2 separate regions of the Homo sapiens genome follow, and region 2 is linked to region 1. Evidence: fine-mapped expression QTL. Tissue or cell type: whole blood. Region 1 holds a variant in brackets; the other region holds the start of a gene. All regions are shown on one strand. Distances are from middle to middle.

Region 1 (7,568 bases):
CGAAACCCTGTCCCTACTAAAAATACAAAAATTTGCTGGGTATGGTGGGGCGTGTCTATAATCCCAGCTACTCGGGAGGCTGAGGCAGGAGAATCGCTTGAACCTGGGAGGCAGAGGTTACAGTGAGCCGAGATGGCATCACTGCACTCCAGCCTGGGTGACAGAGGGAGACGCTGTCTTAAAAAAAAAATTGGCAATGCCCTCTTCTGGGCTACAACTACTTAATGAGTAATGTATACTAGCCTTGGAATTTATTTCACAATTCTTTTTGAGCGTGTGTGTTTGGGTTTATCAGCCATTTCAACTTCTTTTTTGTTGTTGTTGTTGTTTTGAGAGGGAGTTTCGCTCTTCTTGCCCAGGCTAGAGTGCAATGGCGTGATCTTGGCTCACTGAAATCTCCGCCTCCTGAGTTCAAGCGATTCTCCTTCCTCAGCCTCCCAAATAGCTGGGATTACAGGCGCCCACCACCATGCCCAGCTAATTTTTTTGTATTTTTAGTAGAGACGGGGTTTCACCATGTTGGCCAGGCTGGTCTCAAACTCCTGACTTCAGACACTGTGCCCGGCCTCAACTTCTTTCTTAAACCTGACTGGATCCAGCAAATATTTATTTAAAGTTTTGTCAATATGCCGGACTTTCCATTTAACTTTCATTTCCCATTTCTCTTCTGCTTCCAATACTATTTATTTATTTACAGAGTCTCGTTCTGTCACTCAGGCTGGAGTGCAATGGTGCAACCTAGGCTCATTGCAACCTCCACCTCCCAGGTTCAAGCAATTCTTAGGCCTCAGCCTCCCAAGTAGCTGGGACCACAGGTGCATGCCACCATGCTTGGCTAATTTTTGTATTTTTAGTAGACACGGGGTTATGTCATGTTGGCCAGGCTGGTCTCGAACTCCTGACTGCAAGTGATCCACCTGCCCCCACAAAGTGCTGGGATTACTGTTGTGAGCCACCACGCCCGGCCCCATTACCATTTATAGTGTACTTTTCAGTGTCCACCTTGGTTTTCCATTTTCTACATCTTTACCATGTCTAGTCTCTTTGTCTCTCTTATATGTGATTTCATTTTTGACTCAAGGGCCTTCATTCACCCAGTTAGTTATTAGGAGTTCTGAGATCCTCAGATTTCAGATTTCCCACATTCCACTCCTTTCTGCAATACCAGATGCAGCAGGTTTGCCAGTAAATTCAAACATATTATTCTGTCAGTTTAAATTTTCCAAGTTGACATTTTTATATTCCATTTATTTTCATCACTAGCAACTTGGTTGCTTAAAGTCTAAGGATTTTGCCTTTTAAATACTTTCTAGCACTTTGATATACATTGGAGAAACCAAAGAAGTTTCAAATTCAAAATGTCATCTAGTCAAAATGGGGAGGAAAAAATAGTACCCAATATTTAATTTGTCAAAACTGTGCAACACAGCCTTTTTTGGAAGGCCTAAGAAAAAAAATTATTGTATGCTATAATATAACTATAAAAGGTATTGGAGTTTCTTTGGGGAATTTTACCATATTTCTTGAAATAAGGGATCTGTACAAATTTGAATCCCTCCAGAGTTTAACTGTAATTCCTAAAGTTATCATTTACAAATATAAATGTTCATTATGAATTCATTTTTACTTCTTACCTCCATTCCTCAAGGGGTAAAAGTCAAATCTAGGGAAGAAATAATACTAACTAAATTTGATAAAGCTCACTGTATCTAGTACAGTGTTGTATACTCTATGGCTATTTCAGACTCATAACTAATCTCTCTGCTTTCACCCTTGTCCCCAAGAGTTTATTGTCCACAAATCAGCTAGACTGAACCCTATAAACTCTCCAAAAGATTCCCATCCCACTCAGAATAAAATCCTACTTCCTTATGATATACAAATCCTACATAACCAGTCATCAGCAATCCCCATCACTACTCCCACACAATTCTTTTACTTTCTTTTTCCTCTTATATATTATCCCCTACCATTCTCCTTCAGCCTTCTTCTCCAGCCAGTCTAGCCTCTTCTGCCATTCTGGAAGGATATACACCTCTACTGTAAATACAGTCTCCAGACTTTTGCCCTTGATGGTCCTCTTCCTGAAATGTTTTTATCTCAAAAGCCAAAAGTTTGACTCTTTCAGTAATTCTCTGCTCAAACGTTACCCCATCAGAGGCTTTCCCCAGCCACCCAATCTAAAACAGCACATCTGCTGGGCGTGGTGACGCAGGCCTGTAATCCCAGCACTGTGGGAAGCCAAGCTAGGTAGATCACCTAAGGGCAGGAGTTGGAGATGAGCCTGGCCAATATGGCGAAACCCTATCTCTACTAACAATACAAAAAAAAAAATAGCGGGACGTGGTGGCACACGTCTGTCATCCCAGCTACTCAGGGGGCTGAGGCAGGAGAATTGTTTGAACGCGGGAGGTAGAGGTTGCAGTAAGCCGAGATCACACCACCACACTCCAGCCTGGACAACAGAGCAAGACTCTTGTCTCAAAAAAATAAAATTAAAACAGCACCTCTACTATCACTCTCTCCCTTTACCCAGCACTATCTTCCTTCCTACCACTAATCACCACATTGTATAGTAAATAAATATTTAGTTAGCACCTGTCTCCACGCACTATAATGTAATTTCCAAGAAGGCTGTGATTTGTTCAGTGCTGTATTTCCAGTGCCAAGAAACTACCTGGTAGGTGCTCAGTAACTGTTGAGTAGATGAAAATCTAAAATGTCTGACTCTAGAATCCATGTTATCAACTTTAATTATTCATACACACCAAAGAAGTCCTTTAAATAATAAATGTTAAAAGTATATTTAAACTGAGACTATTGATTGCCTCTAGAGAAGAGGCTAAAGGGAGAGAAATATAGGGAGATTAAATGTATACCCCTTAAATCTTGAACTATATTAACGAGTTAATTTTTCAAAATTAAACAAAATGTAACATGTTAATTTAACAGGTTATAACAATGACTGAATTACATTAACTTTCCAGTTTAATTCTGCATTCTCATGATGTGGAACACTAATGGCCAAAACATGACAATCTTCATGTTGTTCTCGGGTGTTTTTTGTTGTTGTTATTGTTGTTGTTTTGAGACAGAGTTTCACTCTTGTTGCCCAGGCTGGAGTGCAATGGTGCGATCTAGGCTCACTGCAACCTTCGTCTCCCAGGTTCAAGTGATTCTCCTGTCTCAGCCTCCCGAGTAGCTGGGATTACAGGTATGCACCACCACAGCCGGCTATTTTGTATTTTTAGTAGAGACGGGGTTTCACCATGTTGGCCAGGCTTATCTCAAACTCCTGACTTCAGGTGATCCGCCCACCTTGGCTTCCCAAAGTGCTGGGATTACAGGCATGAGCCACCGCGCCCTGCCCTGTTCTAGGGTATTTTAATAAGACTCTCCAGGAATTTCTCAGAGAACAAGTTAAATGTTACTTTCTTAAATGTTCCCTACTCTTGTATCATATTACATCTTAATTAGCAATCGTCTTGTCACTAGGAAGTCGTTATGTACATTCATTTATTCATTCATAAAGGGTGACACAGCTACCAAACGGTAAGAGGAGTCTGAGGATAGAAAAAACA[A/G]AACCCCAAAGTGTTTTGGCCTACTCTCACCACTCAACACAATATTTCTAACACCAGATGTGTGGGGTTATTTCCTCCACACACCAAGCAAGCAGTGCACAAGCTGGTGTCTTACAATTTAACTCACTTCTATCTACCTAGAGACAGAAGCGCACAAGCTGGGTGTCTTACCATTTTTTTTGTTTTTTTTTTGAGACGGAGTTTTGCTCTTGTTGCCCAGACTGGAGTGCAACGGCGTGATCTCGGCTCATGGCAACCTCCGCCTTCCAGGTTCAAGCAATTCTCCTGCCTCAGCCTCCTGAGTAGCTGGAATTACAGGCATGCACCACCATGACGGGCTAATTTTGTATTTTTAGTAGAGACGGGGTTTCTCCATGTTGAGGCTGGTCTCGAACTCCTGACCTCAGGTGATCTGCCCACCTCGGCCTCCCAAAGTGCTGGGATTACAGGCGTGAGCCACCGGGCCCAGCCTGGGTGTCTTACAATTTAACTCAATTCTAATTCCACCTACCTAGAGATAGTGTCAGATTCCACAAGTCCAGGGCTCAGGCCCACATGACTGTCCCAGACTTCAGATGCCATTTCTGATTGATTGGCAATAAACTGGGATTTCCACAACCCCCTCCTTGGTTAGACTAATTTGCAAGAGTGGCTCACGGAACTCAGGGAAACACTTTACATACGTTTACTTATTTATTATAAAGGATATTACAAAAGATACAGATGAACAACCAAATAAAAAGATACACAGAGCAAGGTGTGGGAGAAGAGGGGCTGAGCAGAGTCCTTCAGGAACTTCCATGTGTTCAGCTATCCCAAAGCTGTCTCAACCCAGTACTTCTAGGTTTCGTGGAAGCTTCATTACATAGGCATAGTTGATTAAATCACTGGCCATTGTTGATGACGTTGATGACGTTAACTTTCAGCCTCTCCCCCCTCCACAGAGACGTGGGGGGTGGGGTGGGATGGAGGGGGGTGAGGGGGTGAGTGATGAAAGCCCCAACCTTCTAATCACGCCTCTCCTCAGTCTTTCAGGTGACCAGTCCCCATCCTGAAGCTATCTAGGGGTCCCCAGCCTCCAGTCACCTCATTAGCATACAAAAGATGCTCTAATCACCAGTGAGAGTCCTAGAATTTTAGGAGGTTTTTTTTGGCCGGGGAAACGGAATAAAGACCAAATATACATTTCACAATATCACATAATGTTTCATTGTTATAAGAAATTCTGTCACCAAAGTTGCCATAACAAAACAATATTCCAGGATATGGTCCATTATATCCAGAATTTAAGGTCCTAGGCCTGGTAATGGAGTTGAGAGGAAAAAGCGTTTAATAGGAAAAAGTAGAGGCAGCGATCCAGCCACTTCCCACTTCCCCTTCTAACCACAGCTAGTCCCTATTTAGATAGGAAGCCACTCCCAGTTCTCTTGAAAACAGCGGTCCTCTCAATTGCCAAGAAGGCCACAGGAAGAACGTCACTTTCAGAAAAGAAAACCCAGAATGATGACAGTAATGAAATCCTTCATGGACCAATACTAGACTAATGGTCTTCCCAGTACTTTATATTCTTACTACATCACAAAGGGTAAGGATTATAAACCCAAAGTTAGAAAGAATAAGCACTGATTTCTGCCAGCTATAAGGTAATAGATGATTGCACTTAATTTTCAAAATCAAATAAGGCTGTATACTTTTCCAATTCTTCTATATTAAATTATTAGATGTTGTATGATAGTATGAGAACCTTAATCTTTCTGTATGAAATCCCTTTTTTTTTTTTTTTTTTTTTTTTGAGACGGAGTTTCGCTCTTATTGCCCAGGCTGGAGTGCAAAGGCACAATCTCGGCTCACTGCAACCTCTGTCTCCTGGGTTCAAGCGATTCTCTTGCCTCATCCTCCCAAGTAGCTGGGATTACAGGCATGTGCCACCATACCCAGCTAATTTTTTGTATTTTTAGTAGAGATAGGGTTTCACCGTGTTGTCCAGGCTGGTCTTGAACTCATTACCTCAGGTGATATCCACCCACTTCGGCCTCCCAAAGTGCTGGGATTACAGGCATGAGCCACCTTGTCCGGCCTCTGAAATTACTTCATATATACATATTCTGCTATCATTTAAATAATCAACACTCTGTAAAGGTTTTTAAAAATCACTAAAGAGTTTTCAAAACAATTACTAAGAAACAGTCTGTGTCATGTTAAATGACAGATGGAACAATTACTCAATTGAAATGAGACAGAAAATCTGACAATCAATTGGAAACTGTCATATAAAAATTAAGGTTGGACCTAAGCAAAAGCATTACAAATGGTTTTTCCTTTGCTTTTATATTCTCTTTAAGAAAAATACATTTAATTGCAAACAAAGTATAAAGCAGAAGAGTAACTTATACTTGGTGACATTTTACCATTCCCCTACAGTCAAAATATAACAAAATATTTGAACCAATCATATTTCACTCCTTGGTTAGTCACGTATATAGCAGGGACTCTATACTCAGTAGTTACAGATTTAGTTACGAAAAACAATCCACAGGAATACCTTGGCTCTCACTCTACCAAAGGTAGATATGGCTGGCATCTTGAGCATGCTAGTCAATCTATCCAAATGCACAACTACTCATATCCCACCACTCTCTAGCTGTTTCCTATTTCATTTCATTAGGGAGACAGAGACAAACCAAAAAATATGATAAGAGAATGTCAAATGTGGAATGTCAAACCCTTCCACCAACACTGTTATCTCCATAACATCCTATAAAATTATCACTCAAGCTCGAATTACAACAAACTCTCAATAAATCCTAGACCACTTTTATTCTCACTGGACAAATAAATATCCTTGTTCTTGTCCCACACTGCCTGAATTTCCATTTTCCAAGTCATGTTATCATAATGGCACACCAATTCACCCATTTGTTGTACCTGTAAGTACCAGAAAAATCAAGTAAATTAACTCAAGCAGGTTGAGTTAAATCTGACAATTGACTTAACCTTTAATTACTTATGTGCCAGACATAAAAGAATGAAACACATGGCATGCAGAAAAACTGTACAATCACATCACATAGAAAAAATTTTAAAACTAGGTTAAGTAAATTAATAAATTTTGGTTATTCAAAGTATGTTCTGAAACATTAAGTCTGATAACTTCTTCCTAATAAATACAAGAGTCTGAATTATTTTCTTAAAATTTTGCTATTTCAAGTACAGAACTTTTCACGTATTTTTCTTTAAAGCATTAAGTCACACTGTATTATGTCTATTTGAATTACTACTTAAATTACTAGAAAGAAATCAAGATAACATTAAACTCTTAAAATATCTTTGGTAACAGAATGAATTATCTTCTGCGTTGTTGTCTATATCAAAGGTCATATCATATTTCATACTTTTCTAAGGTAAACATTTAAACAGCATACATGGTATGATGGAGAAAATTATACAAACTCACACCAAATATCAGCCTTTCTGAATTTCCAAAAAAGGGCACAACTTGCAAAAAAAAATGAGAACCATAATTTTCATGTATCAAGAAAAAAAATATAATAATCTGTTTTTCTAAAGTGCCCGAAGAAGTCAATTTGTGGCAACACTACCAGAAAAAGTGGCCAATGAAATCACACAAAATTTCTAAACTTTAAAAATGTACTAGGCTCTTTCTAAAGGTGAATATTATTGTCAAATCAGTAACTCAAACCAGCCCTAAATGTCTGCTTTTTTTTTTTTCAGGTAAGCAAGTGGGATTTAATTTTTTGTTTGTTTGTTTCTTTTTTGAGACAGAGTCTCATTCTGTCACTCAGGCTGGAGTGCAATGGCGCAATCTTGACTCACTTGCAACCTCTGCCTCCTGGGTTCAAGCAATTCTCCTGCTTCAGCCTCCCAAATAGCTGGGATAACAAGCGCCTGCGACCACGCCCACCTAATTTTTTGTATTTTTAGTAGAGATGGGGTTTCACCATGTTCACCAAGCTAGTCTTGAACTCC
Region 2 (7,568 bases), 40 kb after region 1:
GGCTGAGGCAGGAGAATGGCGTGAACCCGGGAGGCGGAGCTTGCAGTGAGCCGAGATCGCGCCACTGCACTCCAGCCTGGGCGACAGAGTGAGACTCCGCCTCAAAAAAAAAAAAAAAAAAAAAAAAAAAGAAACTATGATGTACAGAAAAAAACTTTTTAAACCCATCTGTCTAAAAAACAGTACTCACTGCACCTTTGTTTCCTATATTATTTGCTAATTCCTTTCTTTTCATACTAGTCTTTGGCAATAAACTCGACCTATTCCCATTTTTTCAATCAGCTTCTAACTTCCAAACTTGTCAATAGAATCTTCATCATCCCAGTTAGCCAGGTTCTAAATCCTGGTGTCATCTTTGAATTATCCCTACTTTTTTTTTTTTTTTTTTTTTGAGACAGAGTCTCGCTCTGTCACCCAGGCTGGAGTGGCGCGATCTTGGCTCACTGCAACCTCCACCTCCCGGGTTCAAGCGATTCTCCTGTCTCAGCCTCCTGAGTAGCTAGGACTACAGGCGCGTGCCACCATGCCCAGCTAATTTTTCTATTTTTAGTACAGACGAGGTTTCACCATGTTGCTCAGGCTGGTCTCGAACTCCTGACCTCATGATCTGCCCACCTCGGCCTCCCACAGTGCTGGGATTACAGGCGTGAGCCACCGCACCTGGCCGAATTACTCCTGTTTTTAATAATAACAGTAGTATTAGTAATGGCAGCAGCTACACACATTTAGCTCATACTATGTGCCCAGCCACTATTCATTTAATACTAGGTACTATTATTATCACCACTTTACAAATGAAGAGTCCAAGACACAAAAAGTTAAATAACTTGTCCCAGGTCACAAAGCTCATAAGCAGCCAAGCAAGGTTTCAAATCCAGGAAAAATGGGTCCAGAGTTCATGCCCTTAACAAATACTCCAAAGTGATCTCTCTTCTTTCATCCTCTATCAAATCATAAAGTCCTTTAAGTTCCAAAGGGCAGGGACTCTGTTATGTTCACAGCAACATTCCCACAATCCAGTACATAACAGGTGCTCAAAAAAAACCCTTGTTTGTTGAATGAATGAAAGGACCCTTGAAATTACTCCTCCCATTTCCACTGCCACCACTCAAGGCCAGTCTTTCAGGTAAAGACTAGCCAATCAGGTAAATGGATATAAACTTCTCTGCCAGATTTTCCATAACCCAGTCCCATCCAGCCTATCAAAATTTTCTTTCTACTGCTTCTTAATTAGAATCATAAAATCTTAAAACCAGAAAGTATCTTAGAGATCATCCAGTCCAACCTCCTCACTTTACAGATAAAGAAACCCAAAGATGGTGACTAAAATCACCCAGGCAGGTGGAGCCAGAACCAGAACTTGACTCTTCCAATTTTTGCTCTATGATCTTTTTCTTCCAACTCATAATGATGCTTCATTCCTGACAGCTGTCTCCTCACTAGCCCATCAACAAATTATATCTATTCCCATGTTCCCGTTCAAGTTGTTTCTTCTACCCAAATTGTTCTCCCTCTCCATAGATCCAAATCCTCAAAATGTCTTCCTATTCCATTCTTCATGACTTCCTCTTTCTTGGAAAATCTTACATACCGAATAAGATAGTAAAGCAAGAGGATCACCATTGCCTACTAGGCCAAGTTTAATGCATAGTAACACTTCCCACAAAGTGAAGCTTACTTGGATGATTTCTTCCCTGTAAACTACTAATCCATTCTTCCATCCTGTGTTTTAGGAAGTGATTTTAATAAAGATTAGCTCATATATCACCTTCATAAAGTGTTCATATACCCGAAAGAGACACTCAAGCACATCTTCAATAGGAGACATGTGGCCAGGCGCAGTGCCTCACGCCTGTAATCCCAGCACTTTGGGAGGCTGTGGCGGGTGGATCATGAGGTCAGGCGTTCGAGACCAGCCTGGCCAACATAGAGAAACCCCACCCTACTAAAAACACAAAAAATTAGCCGGGTGTGGTGGCGGGCGCCTGTAATCCCAGCTACTCCGAGGCTGAGGCAGGAGAATCGCTTGAACCTGGGAGGCAGAGGTTGCAGTGAGCCAAGATCACGCCACTGCACTCCAGCCTGGGCGACAGAATGAGACTCCGTCTCCAAAAAAAAAAAAAAAAAAAAAAGAGTTTGGGCCAGGAACGGTGGTGGCTCACACCCGTAATCCCAGCACTTTGAGAGGCCAAGGCAGGCAGATTACCTGATGTCAGGAGTATATGACAAAATCCCACCACCACCAAAAATACAAAAATTAGCCGGGCGTGGTGGTGCACACCTGCAGTTCCAGCTACTCGGGAGGCTGAGGCAGGAGAATCACTTGAACCCGGGAGGCAGAGATTGCAGTGAGCCGACATCCCGCCATTGCACTCCATCATGGGGACCAAAGCGAGACTCTGTCTCAAAAAAAACAAAAACAAAAACAAAACAAAAAAACAAGACAAAAAAAGTTTGGAGACAACTATTCTAAAAATACATTGACAATGAGATCAAAATAATAGGTTTCAGACTACAGGGAGCATACATACATGTATGTATGTATATGGGCACACGCACACACTACAAAGGAAAACTTGTTCATATCCTGACTGACGTCCTAACCATGCCCACCAACCTCTAGCCCTTGCCAGCAATCTCAGAATTGTGTGTCCTACTCTGAAGCATAGTACAGAGGCTTTGGCAAAGCCTTTCATTTCTAGTAAAAACGAAATACAAAACAAAATAAACCACAAAAGCATGTCAAAAGTGATAAGATGATGCTAACTTCATCTTCCCTACAGAAAAGCATTTGACACTGTCCACAGTTCACTATCCTGACACTGCTCATCACCTAACGTAAACACATACCTTGTACTCCACAATCTCCTGAAATTCAGTTCCCATTTCCCAATCCCTTAGGATACAACCCATTTCCCCTTCACTAACGACGGGTTTATGCTCCCACCTCTGGGACTGAGCTAATACTGCCCTTCATCCTTCCCTCTCCTGAAGCTGCCATTCACTTTCTTTCTGCAGCCGCATAGTCCCGTCCCAGAGTAGAGGACAGACCATCCAGGGTCCCCAAACCCACTTCTCTTTCCTTCTCCGCCCCCGGGATCTGCCAGCCAGGCTAGAGACGCGAGGGGGGAGGGGTGTGACTCGCCTCCCAGGACTGGACCAGATGGCAGCGGATTCCGCCCCCACTCTCAGGCACCTTCCACCCTCCGACCCCTCGGGCAGCCCGTCCGCCACCCACCCCGCCCCGACCCCACCCCCGGCCTCCCCCACGCTCTCATGCCGGCTCCCAGACACACTCACCATGCTGGGTGAAGATATTGAAGCCGGTCTCTGTGGTGCGCCCCGCCGGGTCCCGCCTGCGGCCGGAGGGCCTGGCTGCACTGCTGCCCCGGATCCCGCGGGGCTGAGGCTGCTGGAGCCCCGGAGCTTCCCCGACGCGGCCCACCTGCTGCCCCATCCCTGCTCTCGCGTACTCCCGCGCCCCCGCCGACCCCTGGTCACATTCCTCCTCGGCTCCGGCCTCGGGCTCCTGGCGCTGCTCCGGTCTCTCCCTCCCAGCCCAGGCCCTGGCCCTGAGTGGCTGGGCCACCGGCGGCTCCGCACCCGGCCTCCTCACGGCAGCCGCCGCGCTGCCTCCAGGCGACTCACAGATTCTGCTTTTCCCTCCTCCTGTCGCGGCTCCGCGCCCCCAACGCCGCCGCCGCCGCCGCCGCCACCGCCGCCGCCATCTTTAAACCACCGAGCGCTGGGAAAGCGTGGGACAGAGCGTCTCCCGCCCCCCGCCCCCCGCCCCCCGCCCGCCAGTCACCTCCGCCGCGGGGAAGGAGGGCTTCCCGGCTGCCGCCCCGCCCTGCCGCGCCGCGCCCCCCGTCCCCGCCCCCGCCTCCTCGCAGGGTGGGTCCCCCAGTGCCCACCTCATTTGCCGGCCACCGCTGCTTGAGGTCTTTCGTCCTCCGCGTCCTGTCGCCGCACCTCGGCGTCCCCCCCCTCAATCCGCCTCAGCCGACCCCCTCCCGCGTTCGGCTCCACACGCTACCGCCTTTGGGGTTGGTCGGTCTCCGGCCTTCCCCATCCCACCTCCACCTGTCAAATGAGTGAGTCGAGGGCTCAGTGCCACCGCGTGCGCAGCTCAGGTGCAGGCACAGGTGGGGCAGAAAAGCACAAGGCATTTATTTGGTCCTTGCCATCCAGTTAAGGAGCTCTAAAATACCCAGGGGGATCTCTTTTAAACACCCTTGTCAGCAGCAGGCCTCCAGTAAAAATTAAAATGGTATAAAATTTACAAGAAGAGAGTAAAATGCTACCTTATTTGATTTTAATTTTTGGAGATTATTTCATGATGTTAAATCGCACTGGCCTGGATTGTGTGCCTTCTATAGTCTCATTGGGGACGCAATTGTAGCCCCATTCCTCATATTATATTACCATGAATTCCTCTTGAACTCCTTTACCATCTCACCATATGTGAGTTTCTGTTTCCTTACAATGCCTGACAGTAAAGTTAATCTTCCCACTGGCATCCTTTATACACTGTGCACGTGGTCAGGTCTTCTTTTGATGACAAAGGAGAAAAAATATATATCTTTGACCCTGTTTCTGAGTCAGAACTTACTCATTTTAGCTTATGCAGTCTAAAGAGAGTGAATGAGGCAGAAAAGAAGCGTTTTATACATACACATATACTATATACAATTGACTCGCCATCCCCCTCTCCCACTGTGTTTACTTGCATCTTAATTCAATTTTTTTTAATTCTCAAATCTTGATCATTCTCCTGTTATTCTTTTGGCTTCCCAATTTGCTTTATAAAAAGTATCAGTTAATGGAGGTACTACACTGAAATTTTGCTTAAATTAGACAGGACGGGAGCCACTGCAAAGAAGGAACAAAACAACCACTGGAAATGTAGGGTTGGGAGAAGAGGTGGATGAAGCTCTCCTTTGCATATCTTTCCTGAACCAGGTTGACCTTAGATGAACCATCCACTGACGTAGATATTGCCTGTTGTAAAAGCACTATGAAATTATTCCATTGCCATCTAGGGTGTAGCCAGAAATAACTGAAATTAACTCCAAAATGGGAACGGAAACACTATGTGTAAACACTGGATAAAATATGAACTTTCCATTTGGATTAAAGTTTCCCTGTGTTTAAAATACCTGTCTTTTCTTCTAATTCCCAGTGTTTGCAACTACTGAAAAAAATTCATTCGAAAGGGATAAAGATGTCACAGAGCCGGAATTTGGTTTACTGTTTGATTTTTATTATGGGAGAAAATTTTAATTTGGGGATAATGGTTTGGTTTCTCTGCTAATTCATGCATACTATATAAAGATAGATGAATATATGGGTTGAACATCTCAAATCTGAAAATCCAAAATGCTGCAAAATTCGAAATTTTTTGAGCACCAATATGATGCCAGAGGTGGAACATTTCACGTAAGTACTTAACATAAACTTTGTTTCATGCACAAAATTTTTAAAATATTGTATTAAATTGCATTCAAGCTATGTGTATAAAGGTGTATATGAAACATAAATGAATTTTGTGTTTAGACTTGGGTCGCATGCCCAAGATATCTCATTATGTGTGTGTAAATATTCCCAAATCTGAAACACTTGTGGTCCGAACATTTCTGATAAGGGCTGCTCAGCCTGCAGTAGAGTGCAGTGGCTAAGGGCAGGGGCTCTGAAGCCAGACTGCTTGGGTTCATAACTTGGCCCTGATACTTATGGACTATTTGATCTGGGCAAAGTACATAACCTTTTTGTGTCTCAGTACATTATCTGTAAACTGATGATGATAACAAATAGTATCTACCTTATAGGAATATTGTGAAAATTAAATTAGTCAATATATATGTATAGTACTTAAAACAGTATTTGGCATATAACTGGTGTCATATATGCATATACTATTAATACAAAAAACATAATGGTTTTAGGTTTTACAAGCCTAACTTTTTCAAATTTTATATATATATATATATATAAATTTGAGCAATGGCCAGAGGCCAGCATAAAAGATCAGACACATCACCAACAGCAGTAAGGCGTGCTGAAGACACAGATACTCTTCATCCTCATCATCCTTATCACAGGAGCAACACCACTCTCTCCAGAAGGAAGGAGCTTGTGAGTAATGCCTCACCAATCCCTGACTTCACCAGTCTGCATTTCTAGGCTATTGCCATACTTTTTACAGTTTTACAGTATCTCTCATATCTACCTCTTCCCTTCATCTATATAAACAGCGTTATGTAAGACACAGTGTTAGCTTAGGCATCTCTGCGCTGGTTTCTCCCGCTACTAGCCCTTTCTTCCTAGAGATTCCTCACCTTTAGCACCAAGCAACTCACTCAAAGAAACTGCTTCTCTCATTGCTTTGACCACACTCTCCCTCTCATTCATTACGTACAAAGTCTTAAGTCTAAAATTTTCACCTAATGGGCCGGGCACAGTGGCTCATGTTTGTAATCCCAGCACTTTGGGAGGCCAAGGTGGGCGGATCACTTGAGGTCAGGAGTTTAAGACCAGTCAGGCCAATATGGTGAAACCCCGTCTCTACTAAAAATGCAAAAACTAGCCAATCGTGGGGGCGCGTGCCTGTAATCCCAGCTACTGGGGAACCTGAGGCAGGCGAATTGCTTGAGCCCAGGAGGCGGAAGTTGCAGTGACAGGAGATTGCGCCACTGCACCCCAGCCTAGGTGACAGAGGGAGTCTCTGTCTCAAAAATAAATAAATAAATAAATAAATAAACAAAATAAACGTTTCACCTAGTGTTTCGAAGTTATTTTCCAGGATAACTGGATTATAATTGCCTAATGTTCTTCCATCTCCTGTTCCTCCAACCTCCACCTTTCCTATGGCAGGCATACATACTTTATCCAATTAGCCTATTTCTGAGATGTATCCCTTTTAGCTATGAGTTTTGCAATAATTATATTCTCCCTAATATAAGTCTCGAGTGACTCCCTTACAGGATTCTACTGTCCTCTTCAGTATTCTATTCAGATCCTGCCTCCTTGATAAGAGAACCTCAGACTTATTAATACAGACCTAACAGTTTCCTCGGACTCTATTCAGTACAGGCCTTAACCACAACTGGTAATAATTCTTTCGTTATAAAATTCGCTTACCTTCCTCTACATCCCTCAAATATGGTTTTTTGTTTTTTGTTTTTTGTTTTTGATATGGAGTCTCGCTCTGTCCCCCAGGCTGGAGTGCAGTGGCGCGATCTCGGCTCACTGCAAGCTCCGCCTCCCGGGTTCACACCATTCTCCTGCCTCAGCCTCCCGAGTAGCTGGGACTACAGGCGACCACCACTACACCCGGCTAATTTTTTGTTTTTTAGAAGAGATGGGATTTCACCGTGTTAGCCAGGATAGTCTCGATCTCCTGACCTTGTGATCCATCTGCCTTGGCCTCCCAAAGTGCTGGGATTACAGGCGTGAGCCACCGCACCCGGCTGTTTTGTTTTGACACATGACTCAAGTGTCATAGAGTTGGAAAGAAACTTAGAGGTCATGTAGGCTAATCTGGAATCCTCTCTGCAGTAATTCCAGTG

The links. PIP is the estimated chance that this variant, and not a neighbour inherited with it, causes the effect.
Region 2: ABL2 starts here. The variant in region 1 is fine-mapped to the expression of ABL2 in whole blood (TOPMed, PIP above 0.99).

The regions. Positions count from the first base shown.
Region 1 is chr1:179,186,065-179,193,632 of GRCh38, forward strand. The region is part of intron 1 of ABL2 (ABL proto-oncogene 2, non-receptor tyrosine kinase); the gene reads right to left. Among named protein-coding and RNA genes, the nearest start is that of ABL2, 40 kb to the right of the region's middle. The variant A/G (reference allele first, on the strand shown) is at 3,582.
Region 2 is chr1:179,225,941-179,233,508 of GRCh38, forward strand. It overlaps ABL2 (ABL proto-oncogene 2, non-receptor tyrosine kinase), which reads right to left and starts at 3,737. Exons shown (of 12, transcript NM_007314.4): 1 at 3,301-3,737. The coding sequence starts at 3,457. RefSeq lists an enhancer at 3,031-3,787 and a silencer at 3,243-3,652.